3 linked regions of the Homo sapiens genome follow. The protein of the gene in region 1 purifies or fractionates together with the protein of each later gene. This does not show direct contact. Each region holds a gene or a part of one and is shown in the gene's direction. Other genes may lie near its edges.

Region 1 (7,022 bases):
TAGCTGGGCATGGTGGCACGTGCCTGTAATCCCAGCTCTGTAATCCCAGCTACTCAGGAGGCTGAGGCAGGAGAATCCCTTTAACAAGGGAGTCAGAGGTTGCAGTGAGCTGAGATTGTGCTATAGCACTCCAGCCTGGTGACAGAGTGAGACTCCTTCTCAAAAAAAGAAAAAAGAAAAAAAAGAAAGCTCTCCCTGCATGTATCAGAGAAACTTCCATGTATGCCTGGGGAGATGTATACACAGCTTGTCTCACTAATTGTGGAAAAGTCAAACCAGTTGAAAATAGTGAACTGAGTTTTGTGCATCTGCATGGATAAATCTCAGAAATGTAATGTTGAGCTTTTAAAAAAAACTGGTTGCAGGAGGATAATACCAGCCCATCACTGTTTGTATAAAGCTTGAAAACATATGTATGATTTATGGGCACATACTTGTGAAAATAAGCATGTATGAGAAGCGGAGTTTGGTAACCCATCCCTGTAGTCAGTCCCAGCTGCTTGGGAGGTGGAGGCAGGAGGATCACTTGAGTCTAGCCTGGGCAACATAGTGAGACTCCATGTCTTAAGTAGATAGATAAGTAGGTAGGTAAATAGATAAGATCGATTAGATAGATAGACAGCATGTATAGGAATTATATACACCAGTGGTTTTCAGACTTTAGCATGCATCCAAATCACCTAGAGGATTTATTAAAACACAGATGTTCATTTCTGATTCAGTAGGTTTGGAGTGTGGACCCAAGAATTTGCATTTCTCCCAGGTTCCTGGGCTATGACGCCACAGGTCTGGGGAGCACAGTTTGAGAATCTCTGATGTCCACCAACTTGAAGATAGTGATCACTTCTTGAGGGGGAGTAGAATTGGATGGGGAGGAGTCCAGAGGGTCTTCAACTCTATTTGTAATATTTAATTTCTTTAAAAAAAGATCTGAAAAAATGATGCAGTGTGACTTGACAAAGCTGGATGAATGCTTATGATTTTTTTTTTCTCTGTGTGTGAAACACTTAAAGAAAAAGGATCCTGTTTGCTGTGTAATCCTGAGAATGGACTGCAAGAGAGGAAAAACTGGGCGTCTGCTTGGGAATCTATTGTGGAAACCCAGGTGAGAGGTGCTGCTGGCTCACGCAGCGGGGTGGAGGGGAAGGGCAGCAAGGAAGGAGATATGCAAGCAGTTGTGAGGGAGGTTTTGGTGGGAGCATTGACTGCATGTGGTAATCGGTTGGTTTAGAGTTTAGGGGAGGGAGGAATCAAGTCACACACACCTGGTCTGTAACTTGAGTGGGTGGTTGGGTCATGAGCCCATGACAGAGGGAACCCTGGAGGAGGGGCCTGTGGGGACTGGGGAGTTCTGCAGTGGACATCCCATACCTTGATAGGCCAGTGAGCAAAGCATAGGAGAGACCTGGGCTGCAGTGCAGACTTAGAAAGCAGCAGAGTTCAGATGGCTGCTAGTGTCCCAGGTGTGGGTGAGGTTACCTGGGTCTTTGGCAGACCTGGAGGAATGCCATCACCTAAGGCAGGGCTTGGCCAACCACAGCTTCTGCTTGTTTTTGCGTAGCCTGAGAGCTGGGAATGCTTTTATCTTTTTAAATGTTAGGGGGAGACTTCAAGGAAGATATAATTCACAAACCATAACATTTGACATTTTAAAGTGTACAATTCAGTGATATTTAGCATATTTACAAGGTTGTACAATCATCATCACTGTCTAATTCAGGAACATTTTAGCCAAAAAGAGACCCCATCCCTGTCAGCAGCTATTCCACCCCCTGCCTCCCCAGCCTCTGGGAGCCACAAATCTATGTTCTGTGTCTGAATTTGCTGTTTCTGGACATTTCATGTAAATGGAATCTTACAGCATGTGGCCTTTTTGTCAGGCTTATTTCACTGAGCATGATGTTTCCAGGGTTCACCCATGTTGCAGCATGAATTAGTGCTTTATTTTTTATGGCTGAATAATATTCCATTTATGGATGTACCACATTTTGTCTATCCATTCATCTGCCAATGGACACTTGGCTTGTTTCCACTGTTTGGCAGTTGTGGATAATGCTTCCGTGAACATTCATGTATGAGTGTGTGTGTGAGTGTGTGTGTTTTCATAGGTACATACTGGGCAGTGGAGTTGCTGGGTCGTGTGGTGACTGTGCTTAACCTTTTGAGGAGCGGCCAGACTGCTTTCCACAGTGGCTGCATTTTACTTTCTCACCAGTGATGTTTGAGGATTTCAGTTTTTCCACATTCCCCTATGTTGTTACTGATTTTTGTATTATAGCCATCCTCATGGGTGTAAAATGCCATCTTGTCACACTTCTGATCTGCGTTTGCCTTGATGACTGGTGAAGCTGAGCATCTTTCATGTATGTGCCTGTTGGCCATCTGTGTATCTACTTTGGAGAAATGTCTGTTCAAGTCCTTTGCCCATTTTAAAAATTTTATTTGTTTATTTTTTTGAGACAGGGTCTCACTGTCACTCAGGCTGGAGTGTTGTGGCACGATCACAGCTCACTGCAGCCTTGGTCTCCTGGACTCAAATGATCCTCCCACCTCAGCCTCCTGAGTAGCTGGGCCTATAGGCACAGGCCAACATGCCTGGCTAATTTTTAAATTTAGTTTTTGTAGACAGGAGGTCTTACTATGTTACCCTGGCTGGTCTGGAACTCCTAGGCTCAAGCGATCCTCCCACCTTGGCCTCCCAAAGTGCCGGGATTACAAGTGTGAGCCACCAATGCCTGACCCTTTGCACATTTTTAAATTGAGTTGTTTTTTTTGAATCTTTTGAGTTGTTCACCAGACATCCACATGGAGATGTCAAGGAAGCAAGCCTTGGGTTCTGAGGAGAGGCTGGGAATGGAGTTTTACCTTTGGAAGTTGTCAGCAGGCAGCGATGAAAAGTCCTGAGTCTGGGTGAGCTCTCCCAGGGAGTGTGGCAGAGGCCTGAGCTCTGAACTCTGGGGGACCCCACTACGTGGACTCAGAGATGAGGAGCTGCCAGAATGTAGTTTCCTGGAAACCAATTATATAAGGCGTTTAAGGAGGGAGTTATCAATCACGGTAGATGCTATTGATAGATCAAGGAAGACTGGGGCTGTGCTTTGACTGTTGTGTTTAGTGATGTGGAGGCCACCTGTGCTGACTGTGATAAGGTCAGTTTGGGTGCAGTGGCAGTGAGTTGGAGAGAATGAGAGGACAGAGCTGGGCGTGGGGTTTGCCTGAGCTGGGCTCGGGGCCAGTTTCATGGTAACACACTGTTTGTAGTAATAGGAGAGTGCAGGAACCTGGGGTGGGGCTTGGGAACTGGTGGAAATGCTCTCTGATTGCTTCTGTTTTTCTAGTAAAATAGGATGATCTCGTTAGATGATCAGCTGAGAGTGAAGGTGGGGGAACAGGTGGTACATGTTTGGAGAAGGAGAGTGTGAGCTTCCAGCTAGCCTAAGGCCACTCGGGACACACCTATCACTTTTATTGACTCACTGCAATAAGCGAGGCTGCATACTGGCGGGACTTGCATATCTTCATCAGAGGGACAGAGAGTCATCTGAGAGGGCACAGGGCAGGAGTCCTTCGGGGCCTCTCTGACCTGGCCCGGGGCAGGGAGCTGGGGATGGAAGTGCCATGAGTGCAAATAGGGAGCAGGGGGTCAGAGGAACAGAGGATATGGGAATGGGTGGTGGAGCCGGGAGAGACTGGAGCTTTGCCAATGGGGGCCTGGGCTGAGCAGGGCTCAGAGCATGTGGTGATGAGCCTTATGGCAGGTGAGGCTCAAGGCCCAGTGTGTGCTTAGGGAAGTGGGCAGCAGAGCGGGTGAGGGACCCGTGGGTGTATCACAGGGGTAGGGTGTTGAGGAAGTTCCAAAGCAAGCTAATAGGGGTTATGGCTGGAGAGAGGCCCAGTGTGTGTGCTAATGGGGGATAGTGTGGTAGAGGCACCAGGGTGTGTGCTAATAGGCCTCTGAGGCCTCGTGTGTGGTGATGGGGGTGTGTATGGTGTTAGTGCTGTGTGTGTGTCTGTGGGGGCCTGCAGGGTAGGAGAGAATGGGGTGCTTATGGAGGGGAGGTGGTTGAAGGACTCAAGTGCTGGGTGTGCGCTTGTGGGGGTTGTGCCGTGGTGGGTGTGTGCATGCGCTAATAAAGGTCTGGGTAGTTGGAGCCCAGTGCATGCTAATGGAACAGAGCTGGAGGGACCTCATGGAGGGATCTGATGGAGGGAGGACGGTGGGAGACCTGAGCCTGTGCTAGCGGGGATGAGGATTGTGGATCTCTGTGAGGTAGGGGGTGGTGGTGGTGCGGGAAGGGTCTTGGTACCGTCAGAGGCCCGGTGCGCTAAGGGTCAAGTTGGTGTGAGGTGCACGTGTGTCCCTGAGCACGAGGACACTCTAGGAAGGGGCAGCCGGATGGTTTAAGGCGTTCTAGAGGCTGCTACTGTGGGTTTAGAGCCATAGAGGCACTGAAGTGTGTGCCATTGCTGGGAGAGTCAGCAGTGTGAGGTCTGGAGTACGCTCAAGAGCGCCAGAACAGTATGAGCTTGTGTGCTTGCATCTGTGGGGTACTGGAATGTGTTGAGGTTCCAGGGAATACTGATGCAGGGGATGAGTAGAGCCGTGGAGGGGATAAAAATAAATTTAAAAGGCCAGGTGCAGTGGCTCATGCCTGTAATCCCAGCAATTTGGGAGGCTGACGCAGGAGGATTGCTTGAGGCCAGGAGTTCAAGGCCAGCCTGAGCAACATCGTGAGACCCAGTCTCTACAAAAAAAAATACAAAAATTAGCTGGATGTGGTGATGCGCACCTGTAGTCCCAGCTACTAAGGAGGCAGAGGTGACAGGATTGCTTGAGTTTGAGGCTGCATTGAGCTATGATTGCACCACTGCACTCCAGCCCGAGTGACAGAGTCAGACCCTATGTCAAAAAAAAAAAAAAAAAAAAGGAAGAAAATCATAGAATTTTGGAGATGAGTAAAGTTTAGGCAAATTTAAATGAAGTAGTGTTTTGATGGGCTCAAAGCCATGTAGAACTGAGTGTAAAGGGGCCAAGATCTAGTCTGGACTGCAAAGTGGTCCTCTTTCCTTGGAGACTACCAGGTTAACATAGATGTGCAGGATTATCTCCAGAAACTCCTTATCTGAAGGTCTGCCCTGTTTGGGAACTGAGGTTGCTTCTGTGTGTCAGAGTGACTTTGATCCTCCAGGAAAGCATGGGATGTTTTATCCCAACTGATAAGACTTCAAACTGCAAAATTTCTGGTAGTCTGTGATTGTAGAGAACAGAATTTCTAGGTAGTAAAAAAGGAGTCTTCATCCAAAGGGGGTTTTTGACACTTTATGGCTGCAGTGTGTTCTAAGGAGAAATGCCGTTTCCTGTTAACTTTGTGGTTTCATTGACGTCTTGTCCCAGCTCTGTATATGGGAGTGGATTTTGTTTTCTCAAGGAGGAGGTAGGAACAAGCTTCCTGTCCTGGATTTTTCATGGCTGGCTCCTCTCAGGCCTCTAGTCACAGTGTGAAGGTCACCTCCTTAGAGAGGTCTCCTGGGATGCTTCCTCCAGGGAGTTCCTACACAGTTACTCTCTATCTTTGAACCCCCATCACAGGATGATGATAGACCTATTTGTTTACTTGTTTATTGTCTGTCTTCCCCACTAGACTTTTCCCCTAAGCTCCAGCAGGATAGGAACCATGCTGGTGTAATTCACTGTGTGTGAATGTCTCCAGCACCCACTGCAGGGCTGGGCACATAGAAGCTGCTCAGGACATGTTGCGGGAATGAGCAGCTGGAAGTCAGTGATGGAGAAGAAGAGAGCAGACTGGGACAGAGAGACTCTGATGGGCTTCCCCACGGCCCTGCTCTGTCCTGGGGCTTGAGAACCTGAGGAAACCTGGACTTGAGGCAGGAGGAGGGCCCTGGGAAAGTTGGACCGTTTGGACTATGGCGATTTGTCTGGGTACATAGCTGCAGTTTCTGTTTACACACTTCCTGTTTGGTACTTTGTGGCAGGGTGTTTCCCGACCAGTCCCTGGGCGCCAACTAGAGTATGGACTGACCAGGTACCTGGATGGAGACCTGAGCTGGAGAAGGAGATGCGCTTGGGAGGTAACCCTGCATGTCACAGCTGTCTCTGACCCAGTTCTGTCCCAGTGCCCCAGCATTCCAGTGCTGTTTAGCTGGCTCCCACTGGCATGGCCACATCCACTGTTAAAGTCTCCATATACTTCCATTCTGCTCCATTCTGCTTCTGTAAATCACCTCTGCCATCCACGGTCCTACTTCAGGCTTCTCCGCAGCCAGGCCCCTCCACCATGGCCTTGCACGGCTCCAGCGGTAGAGCCCACACATTATCAGTGGTTACTTATCGCTGGTGTGACATCTGAGTGGTCATCTCTCCAATCTCATCGCTGTTATTCTAGCTCATGTACTTGTCAGCTCCTGTCCGTGGTCATAACCAGGGCTTCTTAATAACTGGTCTCCCAGCCTCAGTCTCTTTCACCCCAAATCTACCTTTCATAACTGCTGAAGAGTAGCTTTTATTTCTTAAAACTGTTGAGGGGATTCTGAGTACCTCCCAGGGAACAGGACAGCTGCTTAGCTGAGTTCGACAGAGGCCCTCAGCTTCCCAGCCTCCACCTGCTACCCTAAGCAGCCTCCTTCTGCTGTCCTTTGTCCACCCTCTGTCCCTGTCCCACCAGTTGACTAATACATTTTGCTTTCATTTTACTGAATATTCATGAGCATCTATTTAATGCATGCTACTGTGAGTCGGACAGAGTCAGACACAAACACCTCCCACCTAACCTAATCTAGAGGAACCCGCATTTTAGTTTGTAATAAAAAGTAATGATTATGGAAACAGCTAACATTGGGCATTTGGGATAAGCCTGGTGTTCGATACCTGCTTTAATCCCCACGGTAACGCTGCAGCTTACAGGACCCTTGAGTAGAAGAGGCATCAGAACACATTTTTGGAAATGAAAGGAAGTGAAAGCTGACTGTCATGACTTCTTGTTTCATTGTGTATTTTAGGAAAT
Region 2 (7,691 bases), on another chromosome or scaffold:
GCGCCCACCACCATGCCCGGCTAATTTTCTGTATTTTTAGTAGAGACGGGGTTTCACCGTGTTAGCCAGGATGGTCTGGGCCTCCTGACCTCGTGATCCGCCCACCTCGGCCTCCCAAAGTGCTGGGATTACAGGCGTGAGCCACCGCGCCCGGCCTTTTTTTTTTTTTTTTTTTTTTTCAGACAGAGTCGCACTCTGTTACCCAGGCTGGGTGGCAATGGCGTGATCTTGGCTCACTGCAACCTCCGCCTCCCGGGTTCAAGCAATTCTCCTGTCTCAGCCTCCTGAGTAGCTCGGATTACAGGCACGTGTTACCATGCCTGGCTAATTTTTCTGTTTTTAGTAGAGATGGGGTTTCACCATGTTAGCCGTGCCGGTTTCGGACTCCCGGCCTCAGATGATCCATCCACCTCGGCCTCCTAGAGTGCTGGGATTACAGGCGTGAGCCACCGCGCCCGGCCTCCACCTGGATGTTTCATAGACACCTCCAATACAAAAGAGCCATTGTTAAACTTATTACCCACTCCTTCTTGAAATACTTCTTAGGTTTTCTTTTCTTTGTAAAGGAGACTCCCATTACTCTCTGTTTCTCTCTCAATTCACAACTAAAAGTCCTGTTTTAATCTCGTATTCTTTAAATCCATGATGTCTTTTCAGTCCTCAGCGCTGCTGTCCTGATTGCCCCTTTCATAGACTTCTGTACAATGTGCAAAATTCTTCAATGTCCGCATTGTTAATATGCTAAAATCTAAACTTCTTAGCATGGCTTGAAAAGGTTTTTATTAATCAATAGCTATTTAATGGTCCTGCCTCAATTCCTGACATTCTCTAAAAGCATTCCATGCATCAGCTATATGAATCTACTTTCAAATCCCCAACATACTAAGTTCTCTAATGATTCAGTGTCTTTAAACCTACTATTGTGATTGAAATTTTTTTTCAGTCTTGTTGGCCTGGCAAAGTCTGATTTGTATTTCCAACCTCAGCGCTAGGGTTATTTTCCCTTCTTTTGTTTTGTTTTGTTTTGTTTTTTTGAGACAGAGTTTCACTCTGTTGCCCAGTCTGGAGTTCAGGGGCGCAATCTCGGCTCACTGCAACCTTCGCCTCCTGGGTTCAAGTGATTCCTGTGCCTCAGCCTCGTGAGTAGCTGGGATTAAAGTTGTGAGCCACTGCGCCTGGCCCTTTTTTCCCTTCTTTGAATTGTCTAGGCAGAAAAGCATCTCTACACTTAGCAATTTTGTCTTTTTTTTTTTTTTAGTTGGAGACAGGGTCTCACTGTATTGCCCAGGCTGGAGTGCAGTGGCAAGATCACAGCTCACTGCAGCATTGGCCTCCTAGGCTCAAGTGATCCTCCAACCTTAGCCTCCCGAATAGCTAGGACTCCAGGTACACGCCACCATGTCTAGCTAATTTTTGTATTTTTTGTAGAGATGGGGTTTCGCCATGTTGCCCAGGCTGGTCTCGAGCTCCTGGGCTCAAGTGATCTGCCCACTTTGACTTCCCAAAGTGCTGGGATTACAGTTGTATGCCACTGTGCCCTGCAGATTTTAATATTTTAATTACTCACTTTATTAATCAGTGTTTCCAAACTAGGCTGTAAGCTTCTTGAGGGTAGGGACTATGATTACTCTCATCTTTATATCCCCAACACTTAACAGAGTGATTGGTATCTGATTGGCACTTAAAAGAATGAGAAACAAAATTAGTTATGCAGTAATAATGGCATTCTCTCTAGGGCTTAAGCTTAACCTATAGATTTTCACTTAAGCATCTTTTAAAAATTTGTAGTAAATATATAGTACATTAAACAAAATTGAAGAACAGAAAAGCAAACTACATCTCATATTATTTCACCATCCTAATGCCTATTTTAGTGCACTTACTTTTGGTCTTTGCTCAAATATGTGCTATATATATGTGTGTGCATTTATGTTTGTATATTATATATATTTTTATTTTACATAGCTATAATCAAATGTACATGCACTTTCACTTTTTAAAAGCTTAACTCGGCCGGGCGCGGTGGCTTACGCCTGTAATCCCAGCCCTTTGGGAGGCCAAGGAGAGCGGATCACTTGAGGTCGGTAGTTCGAGACCAGCCTGACCAACATGGAGAAAGCCCGTCTCTACTAAAGATACAAAATTAGCTGGGTGTGGTGGCGCATGCCTGTAATCCCAGCTACTCAGGAGGATGAGGCAGGACAATCACTTGAACCTGGGAGGAGGAAGTTGTGGTGAGCCGGGATTGTGCCATTTTACTCCAGTCCAGGCAGCAAGAGCACAACTCCGTCTCAAAAAAAAAAAAAAAAAAAAAAAAAGCTTAACTCACTATAAACATTCAACACTGTTGCATAATCCTCTAAATTATTATTTTTCAGCAGTGTGTAATATCTCATTCCCCTACTTAGGTTGATAGTCTGAGGAGATTTAGGTTGTACCGCATTTTCTTTTTTATTTTATTTTATTTTTTTCGAGACGGAGTCTCGCTCTTTCGCCCAGGCTGGACTGCAGTGGCGCTATCTAGGCTCACTGCAAGCTCCGCCTCCCGGGTTCACGCCATTCTCCTGCTTCAGCCTCCTGAGTAGCTGGGATTACAGGCGCCCGCCACCGCGCCCGGCTAATTTTTTGTATTTTTAGTAGAGACGGGGTTTCACCGTGTTAGCCAAGATGGTCTCGATCTCCTGACCTCGTGATCCGCCTGCCTCGGCCTCCCAAAGTGCTGGGATTACAGCCGTGAGCCACCGTGCCCGGCCAGTTGTACCGCATTTTCTATTATAAATAGGGACAGATCCAGGCTTTGTGGGACTTGAAGCTTATACAATTTTGTATAATACAATTATACAGAAGAGGAATTCAAAATTATCTTTGTTTTGCAAATAGGACCATGTGAACATACCATAAAGGCCCCTCCCCAGACATTGGAAGGGGCCTGTGAAAGTGAAGGTTAACTTTCTTTTCTTTTTTTTTTTTTTTCTGAGACGCAATCTTGCTCTGTTGCCCAGGCTGGAGTGTAATGACGCGATATCGGCTCACTGCAACCTGCGCCTCCTGGATTCAAGCCATTCTCCTGCCTCTGCCTCCTGAGCAGCTGGGATGACAGGCGTGTGCCACCATGCCCGGCTAATTTTTTTTGTATTTTTAGTAGAGACGGGGGTTTCACCATGTTGGACCAGGCTGGTCTCGAACTCCTGACCTCGTGATCTGTCCGCCTCGGCCTCCCAAAGTGCTGGGATTACAGGCCTGAGCCACCCGCCCCCGGCCCAGTTTCCTGCTTTGAGGAAGCCAGAATACAAAACTCACTTGGTTCTTAGAAGCAGGTCATTTAAATAAACGGTGACTAGACCTCAGGTGAATTTGGGAGAAAGTGATTTGGCTGTTTCTGCTGTCCATCTACTTACAAACCTGCAGCACCTTTGGTTCAGCGCGCATTTCTTGGAAGGAGCGGAGTGGCTTAAGTCAGAGACCTGGATTGGGCTGAGGTACTGCTATTCATTACTTGAGTGGCCCTGGGTAAGTCATTAACCTCTCAGGTTCTCATTTTGCTCCTCTGTGCAATAAAGAATAAGTAACAAAACCTGCCTTTCCCCAGGGTAGTTTTGAGTGTCAAATATGATAACTTGTGTTCAAGCACTAGTGAACTCCAATGTCACTGAGGTACTTGTTAACATTGTGGTAGCAGCTCCACTTTCTTGCCCATCTGCCTCCAGGTAAGGGCGTGTGACAGCTGGGCAGGATGCATCTGATGGCTCCATTAGGGTTAACTGTTGGAGCGCCTCTGCCCAGACGAAAGCCTGGCAGGTGATTTCAGGGGGCGTCTGGGCCATTACTCCTGAATGCCCAATGCACTGGGAGTAGCAGAGGCTGTGCACAGTCTGAGATTCTAGGGAATCTTTTCCTTCTCAAGCTGAGAATTGATAATCGAAGCATGCCAAACATTCGTTATTATATGCAACTTGTAAAATCCTAAATAGTCTTGTCCAATTGTCCCTTTGCTCTTAGGTTTTGAGGCATTTATCTTGGAATTTTATCTGCCAGTTTAGAAATCTTTAGCTGGTCGGGCTTAATTCTGGGGGCAGTTTGTATTTCTGGGAAGGCGGGAGAAAAATGACAATCTCAGTTTTGAATTGGCGTTTTAATATCGTTCACCAGATCCACGCTGAAAGCCGGTGTAAACAGCGTTCAAAAATTCCGCCCTCCCAAAAAAAGGATGCTGAAACCGATTTCCAACCCCGAAGACGGAGCTCATCACCCCGCAACGGGATCCGCCGTGGCTCCCCGCGCGTGCACCGCGGCTGGGCAGTCTCAGGTGGCTGGGGGCGCGAGACCGGAGCCCCACCTGGCCCTGCCGGCGGCGGCCGCACAAAGAGCGGGGCAGACGGCTGCCCGGCCGAGCCGCAGAAAGTAGTCCCGACCACGCCGGCTCCAATGTTGTTCAACGCCGCCTCACGCCCTCCGCGGGGAGGGCCGAAGCGGCCGGTCCGGGAAAGAATCCCGCTGGAATGCGCCACCGGGAGGAGGCTTTCCCTCCCAGTTCGCCTCTGCTAGCCCAGAACCTCTCCCAGGGTCTCAGGCAGAGGCTGTGCGTGCGGTTGCCGACTCCCTTCCCTGGCCGTACAGGAGGCAGTACCGGGAGAAGGGGCTCGTTGCGCGCAGGGACACGGTCGCGGCGACCCTAGGAGGCGGTGCCGACCGTATCCCTGCGCCGCTGCGCGAGGCAGAGGCTGAATGAGGAGCTGCGCGGGGGAAGCGGGGCGCCGGGGGAGGAGGCGGCGGGATGGAAGCAGACGCTGGCGTCGCGCGAGCCCGGGGCCGAGCGGCGCGGTAGAGAGGGCGGCGGCGGCGCGCGCGGAACCTTGACGTGCCCCTTTCTTTCTTCTCTCGCTGGGAAGCTGGGAAGTATGAGCGTGCAGCCCTGCCGCTGCGGCGGCCGCCCCGGCTCCTCGCCTCCCCCACTTCTGGCCACCCCTCGCCGGTGAGAGAAGAGAACGCGAGAAGGGAAGATGGGGGCCGTCCTGAGGAGCCTCCTGGCCTGCAGCTTCTGTGTGCTCCTGAGAGGTGGGAAGAGTGGGGGCACTGGAAAGTTGGTGGGGTTCGGGGGGAGGTGGCCTTGTTGTATGTGTCTAGGGGGAGGGGAGGGACGGAGGAAGGGAGAAGGGGAGAGGAGCGGGGAGAGGCCTGGTCGTGGGGAGGGGGAGAGAAAGGGGCCCGGGAGCAGGGGCTGCGTGCACCGCCCGGCCACAATGCGGACCTGGCCTGGCTTCCCAGACCTTCCCCGGACACATCGGAGCTTCGATCCCGGCTGCTGGTCTTAGGGAACCCTTGGCACCCCATGCTGTCGGGATGACTGAGTGTCTGTGTGCCTCTCTCTGCCTGGGGTCTTCCAGGGAAAAGGGTCTTTGTACGTATTTTGGCTTTTAAAATGTTTGAGTCCGAGATGCTTTAAGGTTGGCCTTATCCATCGAAGCCCCGCCACCCACTCCCCACCCCGTTTCGGTGTTTCTTAGGTGAACTTTTAAAGCCCTCTTGCTATTTTTTCCAGGCCTTGTTACAGGTAATGATTGGCTTCCGTTTGGGATATAATGACCCTGGGTGAGAGCGCAGTTGGAAAGTGACTCCGGGGTTATAGGTCGAGCGTTTCAGCATTGGGAGCCTTCTGAGCTTCAGCCCATAATAAAATAAAACATTGCCCTTGTAACCTCTGGTATTCACGGCTTGCCCCTATTTTCGGAGTATGCAAGTGTACAGTTGGCACTAAGTAGGGAAATTCATCCTCGTGTGAAGAGGAGCCGGTCCTGGGACCAAAATGATAATTTGCTCTGCACCCCTGGGGACTGCTTGGCACTTTGGTAAATTGCATAGGCTGTTCGAGATAATTTGCTCTGGGAATCGCTTGAATTCGATGGCACTATGATGTTTTGAATTGGACTGCAAAGCTGACACATGCTCTGTGACTTTTGTGACAGTTCACAAAGATTTTTGACTGGCCCGTCGGCAGCTCTTCTCAAACTATTTAGTGTTGAACTTGAGATGGCTGTGATGGCTGTGGAGCATTTACCAGCAGAGGAATTTAAGTACTGCTCGATACGGTGGCTTGTAGTTTTGGTTTGGTAAAGTTCTTACTGGCGTTCATAGTAAGTTCTTTTCAGGCATGTGACCGCTGGTCGCTGGAGATTTTTAGGTGTTAACAAGCTAAACTTTTGTTAAGTTCTCCAAACTAATTTAAGTTTACAGAACACTAATAGTAACTAATAGTCTGTGACAGGTGTATATTTTTGCGTGTACTGTGTATATGTATTTCGGATGAGAATGATTGAGTTTTTTTTTGGAGGAGGAGAAATACTTTCTTCAGTTACTCTGTAGTAATGCAGCATTGTGTTTGCATGTTATATTACTTGATACTCTAAGCATATTACAAAGTTTTCCCACATGTAAACCCCGGAAAGGTAGTGTTCATTAGATTTTTGTGGCAGAAATTTTAATGAAGTGTTACGTACTGGAGAGGTTTCATAAGTATATACTTATTTTATTATTGGCATACTCTATTGAAAGGGGTTTTGCTGTAGCTGTTAGAAACAACTATATTTGACATAAGAATATGTATGTATTTTAAGACATAAGGTTAATAGGGCTGACAAATATGAGAACCAGCTGATTGGTTAGAGTCGTGGGAAAACTTATAACTTGGGATGTTTCTGGTTGTCTAGTTGTATTTCTTGGAGGAGAAGCGTGTGATGTAAATGCCGTTTGTTTAACACCAGCTTTGAGACCAGAGCTGGGTTTGTTCATTATTGGAATTTAGATAGGTTGCACTTATTTATGTAACAAGACCTGGAAGAGGTAATAGTTTAAATTGTCTCGTTTCCACTAGCAAAGTTTTCAGAAGTGGAGCTCTCGTTTTAAATGTGGCGAAATATGGTGTAAGGTGGTCTTCTAATATGTAACAGTACTGTACTTAGCTGTGAGTACATATTATTTGAAGTAAAACTGTCTTTTGATGTAAAATATTTTTGTTCATAATTTAGAATTAATTCATTCTTTGAGAATGTCATCCTCTGTTATAGTAAAGATATTTAGTCAACCTTGGACTCCAAGGAGAAAAATCTGATTGATTTGTTGCATTTAGGTCATTTTTTTCCCCCACAAAGAATTGGGGCTTTAACATTGGCTGGGTGTGATGGGGTATGTGAGAGTCTGGGAGACCTTCTGTCCTGTAGCCCTGTTGAATTAGTAGCAGAAAGCCAGGGAATACTGTTAGTGCTGTGTCCCTATCTCTATCATCACATGACAAGGTATAAAGGAAAGATTTGGGAATTTCAATACTAAAATCTTGGATTTAAAGCCCAAGTGTCACAACTTCATAACTTTGTGGTTCTGGTCTAGTCCGCTTCTCTAGGTCTCAGTTTCTTTACTGGTAGTGTGGATAATGATACCTGACTAGTTTGCAGGGTTATTGGGTGTTTTAAATGAAATAATATGGAGTACCTTGTTAATGTTACTTTTTGCTATAATTTTTGCTTGTTCAGGGACATATCCTCAAATGCTTTCATGATTTGAGATTTAATTTGTATAACGTTCACAATTTTTTTTTTTTTAAAGAGACAAAGTCTTGCTTCATCACTCAGTCTGGGGTGCAGTGGTGTAATCACAGCTCATTGCAGTCTCAAAGTCTTGGGCTTAAGTGATCCTCCTGC
Region 3 (7,022 bases), on another chromosome or scaffold:
TGTCCAGGCTGGTTGCGAACTCCTGAGCTCAGGCAGTCCGCCCACCTCGGCCTCCCAAAGTGCTGGGATTACAGGTGTGAGCCACCGCGCTCAGCCTTACTTATTTTTTTAGAGACAGGGTCTTGCTCTTCATCAGGCTGGAGTGCAGTGGCGTGGTTATTGCTCACTGCAGTCTCAAACTCCTGCTGTTATTGGTTCAAGTGATCTTCCTGCCTCAGTCTCCTGAGTAGCTGGATCCACAGGCGGATGACGCTACACTCAGCTAATTTTTTTTTTTTTCCTAATTTTTCATAGATACTTCGCTTTGTTGCCCAGGCTGGTCTCGAACTCCTGAGCTCAAGCGATCATCCTGCTTCCTCCAACTCCCAGAGTTCTGGGATTACACGCGCGAGCCACGATGCCAACCAGGAGACCAGAAATTAAGCTCAGCTTTCTTTCTCTCCCTTCTTCCCTCCCTCCCTCCCTCCTTTCCTTCCTTCCTTCTTTTTTAAAACTTTGTGGTATCTGTTTGTGAATTGCTTATTTTACTTACCATATTGTCTTCAAAGTTCATCCATGTTATAGCCGGTGATGGGATTTCCTTCCTTTTTGAGATTGAATAGTATTCCATTGTATGCCTATGCCACATATGGTTTAATCATTCATCCATTGATGGACACTTGGGTTGCTTCTGACTGTTGGCTGTTGTGAGTAGTACTGCTATGAACACGGGTCTGCAAATATCTCTGAAACTCTGCCTTCTTTTTCTGTTTGTTTGTTTGTTTGTTTAAGGCAGTCTTACTCTGTTGCCCAGGCTTGAATGCAGTGGTGCCATTACAGCTCACTTTATTTTTTATTTTTTTGAGACAGTCTCACTCTTGTTGGCCAGGCTGCAGTGCAGTGGCGTGATTTCAACTCACACTGCAAACTCCACTTCCCGGGTTCAAGCTATTCTCCTGCCTCAGCCTCCTGAGTAACTGGGATTACAGGCATCTGCCACCACACCCAGCTAATTTTGTGTTTTTAGTAGAGACAGGGTTTCTCCGTGGTGGTCAGGCTGGTCTTGAACTCCCGAACTCAGGTGATCCACCTGCCTCGGCCTCCCAAAGTGCTGTGATTACAGGTGTGAGCCACCACGCCCAGCCTGCCCAGCTAATTTTTGTATTTTTAGTAGAGACAGGGTTTTGCCATGTTGGCCAGGCTGGTCTCGAATTCCTGACCTCAGATGATCTGCCTGCCTTGGACTCCCAATGTGCTGGGATTATTGGCGTGAGCCACCGCGCCTGGTGGAGTGGTGGAGTCTTTTTTTTTTTTTTGAGGTGGAGTCTCTGTGGCCCAGGCTGGAGTGCAGTGGCGCCATCTCGGGTCACTGCATCCTCCGCCTCCCAGGTTCAAGCGATTCTCCTCCCTCAGCCTCCTGAGTAGCTGCGGCTACAGGTGTGCGCCACCACACTCGGCTAATTTTTTGTATTTTAGTAGAAACGGAGTTTCATCATGTTTCCCTGGCTGGTCTCCTGAGCTCAGGCAGTCTACCAGCCTCCCAACGTGCTAGGATTACAGGCGTGAGCCACCCCACCCTGCCCAACGACTCACTTAGCTTCAACCTGTCAGACTCAGGCTTCTCCTACCTTAGCCTTCTTAGTATCTGGGACAACAGGTGTGTGCTACCATACCTGGCTAAATTTTTCTTTTTTTGATTTTTTGTAGAGACAGGATAATTTTTTTTTTTTTTTGTATAGACAGGGTCAGGCTATGTTTATGTTGGCCAGGCTGGGAAATAAGGTCTTAATAGAGGAAGTTGAAGATTCCTGGGGGAATAGCATGTAGAGCAGCTATAGAGGGAGAGGGTGCTGATTACTAGCTAAAAGACTTAGAAATTTTTGCAAACATGGACTCATGATAGTTTTTGGGTGATGAGTCTTCTTGTAGGATAGCTTGAAAGAGGAGGAGGAAACTAGAGGCCCTGGTAATATAAGGTAACATTAAGTATCCTGATGTCAGTAATGGAGAAGAGTGAAAGACTATGATTGATTGGGTGACTGTGTGGGCAGAGGATGTGAGGAGAAAAGGACATCTTGTGTGTGTGTGCGCACACATTTTTAGTTGTGTATCTTCTACTTGTTTTCTCCCCCACCTTGTACCTGTACTTTCTCAAGCCCAAAAATGAAAATTTACCTGCTACCAACCACATCATCTTGTGCATCTGTGTAGCTCAGTTTTTATTTCTTTAGATCTGTGGTCCTCCGTGGAAAGAGAGCCACTACCCCAAGACACATCTAATATAATACACAGGGCGCTTACGTGGTTAGAAAAGAAGAGATAAGCCGGGTGCGGTGGCTCACTCCTGTAATCCCAGCACTTTGGAAGGCCGAGGCGGGCAGATCACGACGTCAAGAGATTGAGACTATCCTGGCCAACACGGTGAAACCCTGTCTCTATTAAAAATAACAAAAATTAGCTGGATGTGGTGGTGCACACCTGTCATCCCACCTACTTGGGAGGCTGAGGTAGGAGAATCACTTGAACCCAGGAGGCGGAGGTTGCAGTGAGCCAAGATAGTGCCAATGCATCCCAGCCTGGCGATAGAGCAAGACTCATCTCAGGAAAAAAAAAAAAAAGGAGCTTGTTTTGGCCAGGTGCAGTGGCTCACGCCTGTAATCCCAGCACTTTGGGAGGCTGAGGCAGGTGGATCACCTGAGGTCAGGAGTTCGAGACCAGCCTGGCCAACATGGCGAAACCCTGTCTATACTAAAAGTACAAAAATTAGCCGGGCATGGTGGTGGGTGCCTGTAATCACAGCTACTCAAGAGGCTGAGGTGGGAGAATTACTTGAACCTGGGAGGCGGCGGTTGCAGTGAGCTGAGATGGTGCCACTGCACTCCAGCCTGGGCGACAGAGGGAGAATCCATCACAAAATAAATAAATAAAATATATAAATTTTAAAAAGTAGCTTGTTCTTAGTTTAATATTCTTTTTGAGTTCTAAAACGCTAATTTGAAAACATGTCTATTGATGATATTTGAGCAACCGTATCCATATTAAGCCTTAATATGAGAGGAATTATCTTCTGTGTTAATTTTTTTTTTTGAGACGAACTCTTGCTCTGTCACGCAGGCTAGAGTGTAGTGGCGTGCTCACTGCAACCTCCACCTCCTGGGTTCAAGCAGTTCTCCTGACTCAGCCTCCCAAGTAGCTGAGACTACAGGCGCCCGCTATCGCTCCCAGCTAATTTTTGTATTTTTAGTAGAGAAGAGTTTCGCCATGTTGGCCAGGCTGGTTGTGAACTCCTGACCTAGTGAGCCACCTGCCTCGGCCTCCCAAAGTGCTGGGATTACAGGCGTGAGCCACGGCGCCCGGCCATCTCTGTTATTTCATTGTAATGTTTTAACGGGTACCCCCTGTAAATTAGTGTATGAAAGGGCTTTTGTCTGTTGTAAAGCACTTTACAAATGCAAAAGTTTGTTGGAAATTGTATTTGAATGCCCCACATCTGTGTAACCAATCCTCTCTATATGAGGATGTTGTGTATGTTTCAGTTTTATTTTGAAATTTTCCAGAAATGGAATCTTTTAACTGATTTTAGGGAAACCCTTTAATCTCTCTAGGCTGCCTTTCTTTATCTATGAAATGAAATAGTAAGTTCTTTTTAGCTCTGCGATTTAAAAGCTTTAATTTTAAATGAGAGAGTGGTTAGTGATCTTCATGAAGTTTGATAGGTGGCAATACATTTAACTGATTTTGCTCTTTATGTGTAGATCATGGAAGGGAAGTGGTTGCTGTGTATGTTACTGGTGCTTGGAACTGCTATTGTTGAGGCTCATGATGGACATGATGATGATGTGATTGATATTGAGGATGACCTTGACGATGTCATTGAAGAGGTAGAAGACTCAAAACCAGATACCACTGCTCCTCCTTCATCTCCCAAGGTTTGAAATGGTCTTTGAATCTATTCCTTTTACGTCTTGAGATGATAAAATTATGAAGATACCCGGGTGCAGGGAAATGTAGTCTCAACTACTCAGGAGGCCTAGGACAGGAGTGTGAGTCCAGCCTTGGCAACACAGGGAGATATCATCTCTAATAAAATATAAAAGAAAAACATGGTGAAGATAAATTTGGAACGTTTTCAAAGGGAAAGCAAAATTCGTGAAAATACTTATTGATCTCTCTGGCAGCCTTTGTCTTGCTAGAGGCCAATTATATGGGTTGAATTTGAAGGCCAGCTATGAAATTTTTGTGACAGTTGAAAGCAAACCAGGAGAATAGATTCTAGATAAAAAGGCATGTTGCTGAAAATTTAAATTTTTAATTCATTTATGTATTTAACACAGGTTACTTACAAAGCTCCAGTTCCAACAGGGGAAGTATATTTTGCTGATTCTTTTGACAGAGGAACTCTGTCAGGGTAAGTGTTTTCCAGAGAAATATATGTTAGAGGCAGACATGTAAATAAGATGGGATAGTAGATTCCTTTTTGGATAGCATCTTTTATAGTGAAATGTCTAACTTTATTTTATTTTATTTATTTATTTTTTGAGACAGAATTTCGCTCTTTTGCCTGGGCTGGAGTGCAATGGCGTGATACCGGCTCATTGCCACCTCCGTCTCCTGGGTTCAAGTGATTCTCCTGCCTCAGCTTCCCAAGTAGCTGGGATTATAGGCATGCGCCACCATGCTGGCTAATTTGTGTGTGTGTGTTGTTATTTTTTTAGTAGAGATGGGGTTTTGACATGTTGGCCAGGCTGGTCTTGAACTCCTGACCTCAGGTGGTCCACTTGCCTTAGCCTCCCAAATTGTTGGCATTACAGGCATGAGCCACCGCACCTGGCCTGAAATTTCTAGCTTTAATATCTTCAGTGTTAACATCCATGCAGGAAAATAGTCTTTTGGAATTTGTGGTTTTTACTTCCACTTCTTTCCCTCCCCCACTCTACCCTATATTTTGTTCTTTGATTGAGGAAAAAAATTTTCTCTTGATGTTAAAACATCAGTGGAATTATCTCATAGGTTTGGTACTTTTTCATATAGGTTTGTGAGTTGAAGATAATGTATTATCATTAGTTGTGTGACAGATTTAAAGGTTGGAAGTAGAGTGGTTAAATAGGCTAAGAGCAGAATAGGTCCTACTTTAATGAGTATTTACATAATTTTCCCTCACAAGTCAACTGTCATTTTAAGACTGATTTTGGGATTTGTTATTTACAGGTGGATTTTATCCAAAGCCAAGAAAGACGATACCGATGATGAAATTGCCAAATATGATGGTGAGAATCCCATTTGGTTTAGATATAATAGCAGATAGAGGTTTGACATGTTGTCTCCATGGCATTTCCTAAGACTAGTTTAAAAGGACATAGTAGGCTTTAAGATTTTTCCAGCCAGGTGCGGTGGCTCACGCCTGTAATCCCAGCACTTTCGGAAGCCAAGGCGGGCAGATCACGAGGTCAGGAGATCGAGACCATCCTGGCTAACACAGTGAAACCCCGTCTCTACTGAAAATACAAAAAATTAGCTGGGCGTGGCAGCGTGCATCTGTAGTCCCAGCTGCTGGGGAGGCTGAGGCAGGAGAATGGTGTGAACCCGGGAGGCCAAGCTTGCAGTGAGCCGAGAACGCGCCACTGCACTCCAGCCTGGGTGACAGAGCGAGACTCCGTCTCAAAAAAAAAAAAAAAAAAAAGATTTTTCCATGGAAGTTTTGCCACCTTTGTGTGTTGCCTAATTTTTTTTTTTTTTTTTTTTTTATTTAAGGTTCAGGGGTGCATGTGTAGCCTTATATTTAATAGGATTAGATCTGTTTAATCACCTGTGCTACTGAATGTTGGAAATTTCTAGACAGTAGTATAATACACTACAGTTTTAAAAAGCCATATCTGAATAATATTTGCCAAATAAAGTGTGTTTATTTATTATTTATTTACTTTTTTGAGACGGAGTCTCATTCTTGCCACCCAGGCTTCTGGAATAGAGTGGCGTGATCTTGGCTCACCGCAACCTCTGTTTCTTGGGTTCAAGCGATTCTCCTGCCTCAGCCTACCGAGTAGTTGGGATTACAGGTGCCCATCACCACGCCCGGCTAATTTTTGTGTTTTTATTAGAGATGGGGTTTCACCATGTTGGCCAGGCTGGTCTCGAACTCCTGACCTTGAGTGATCCGCCTGCCCTCAGCCTCCCTAAGTGCTGGGATTATAGGTGTGAGCGACCACGGCTGCCCCAGTATAATATATTTATGCAACTAGGAGGTGTTTTTTTTGGCATTTAAAGGACCTTCAGAGGTAGAGTTAAGCAGTGGAACTTTTTTGTGTTGTCTTGTAGGAAAGTGGGAGGTAGAGGAAATGAAGGAGTCAAAGCTTCCAGGTGATAAAGGACTTGTGTTGATGTCTCGGGCCAAGCATCATGCCATCTCTGCTAAACTGAACAAGCCCTTCCTGTTTGACACCAAGCCTCTCATTGTTCAGTAAGTGAAATGCTTGTTGGATAAAAGCTTTCTGCAAAGGGTAATCTTAGAAGACATTATGTAACTTTTACTCTATGTTAAAAAATTATGAGATTATATAAGTGGTGGTAGGGATTTTTGGGTGAATTTAAACACCTTGTAATTAATAGTTTTTCCTGGCTAATGCATTATTTTGAAAGAAACTGGTTACTTATTTTCCTGACTCTAAATAACTTGTAGATTTTGCAGAACAAATTTACCGGAAATCTGCATTAATAGTTTTTGTAATTAATTAATTACAAAACTAGTAATTAATAGTTTTTCCTGCCTAATGCATTATTTTGAAAGAAACTGGTTACTCATTTTCCTGACTCTAAATAACTTGTAGATTTTGCAGAACAAATTTACTGGAAATCTGCATTAATGTTCAATTTAATTTTATTTATTTTTGTGGCATTTGATAACTATTCAAAAACAATAGAAGATGGAATCCTTTGTAAGGGTAAACATTTGACCTATGATAAAACGTGACTAAGATGAGGGAGAGAGGAAATACATTAAGAGAGTTTCGATCTTTCAAAATGCCATACAGTTTTCTGCTTTTCTC

What was found.
Region 2: the proteins of POMK (region 1) and LRP6 purify together in Homo sapiens (affinity purification with mass spectrometry; 5 studies listed by BioGRID and IntAct, with this or other methods). This does not show direct contact.
Region 3: the proteins of POMK (region 1) and CANX purify together in Homo sapiens (affinity purification with mass spectrometry; 5 studies listed by BioGRID and IntAct, with this or other methods). This does not show direct contact.

Annotation. Positions count from the first base shown.
Region 1 is NC_000008.11:43,096,511-43,103,532, forward strand, and holds part of POMK (protein O-mannose kinase), read left to right. Parts: intron 1-1,013; 5' UTR 1,014-1,105; intron 1,106-5,994; 5' UTR 5,995-6,090; intron 6,091-7,017; 5' UTR 7,018-7,022. UniProt on the Homo sapiens protein: Protein O-mannose kinase that specifically mediates phosphorylation at the 6-position of an O-mannose of the trisaccharide (N-acetylgalactosamine (GalNAc)-beta-1,3-N-acetylglucosamine (GlcNAc)-beta-1,4-mannose) to generate phosphorylated O-mannosyl trisaccharide (N-acetylgalactosamine-beta-1,3-N-acetylglucosamine-beta-1,4-(phosphate-6-)mannose).
Region 2 is NC_000012.12:12,264,045-12,271,735, reverse strand, and holds the start of LRP6 (low-density lipoprotein receptor-related protein 6 isoform b precursor), read left to right. Parts: upstream 1-4,691; 5' UTR 4,692-5,000; coding exon 5,001-5,055; intron 5,056-7,691. UniProt on the Homo sapiens protein: Component of the Wnt-Fzd-LRP5-LRP6 complex that triggers beta-catenin signaling through inducing aggregation of receptor-ligand complexes into ribosome-sized signalosomes.
Region 3 is NC_000005.10:179,701,945-179,708,966, forward strand, and holds part of CANX (calnexin isoform d precursor), read left to right. Parts: intron 1-3,734; coding exon of another isoform or gene 3,735-3,737; coding exon 3,738-3,908; intron 3,909-4,313; coding exon 4,314-4,387; intron 4,388-5,187; coding exon 5,188-5,246; intron 5,247-6,294; coding exon 6,295-6,436; intron 6,437-7,022. UniProt on the Homo sapiens protein: Calcium-binding protein that interacts with newly synthesized monoglucosylated glycoproteins in the endoplasmic reticulum. It may act in assisting protein assembly and/or in the retention within the ER of unassembled protein subunits.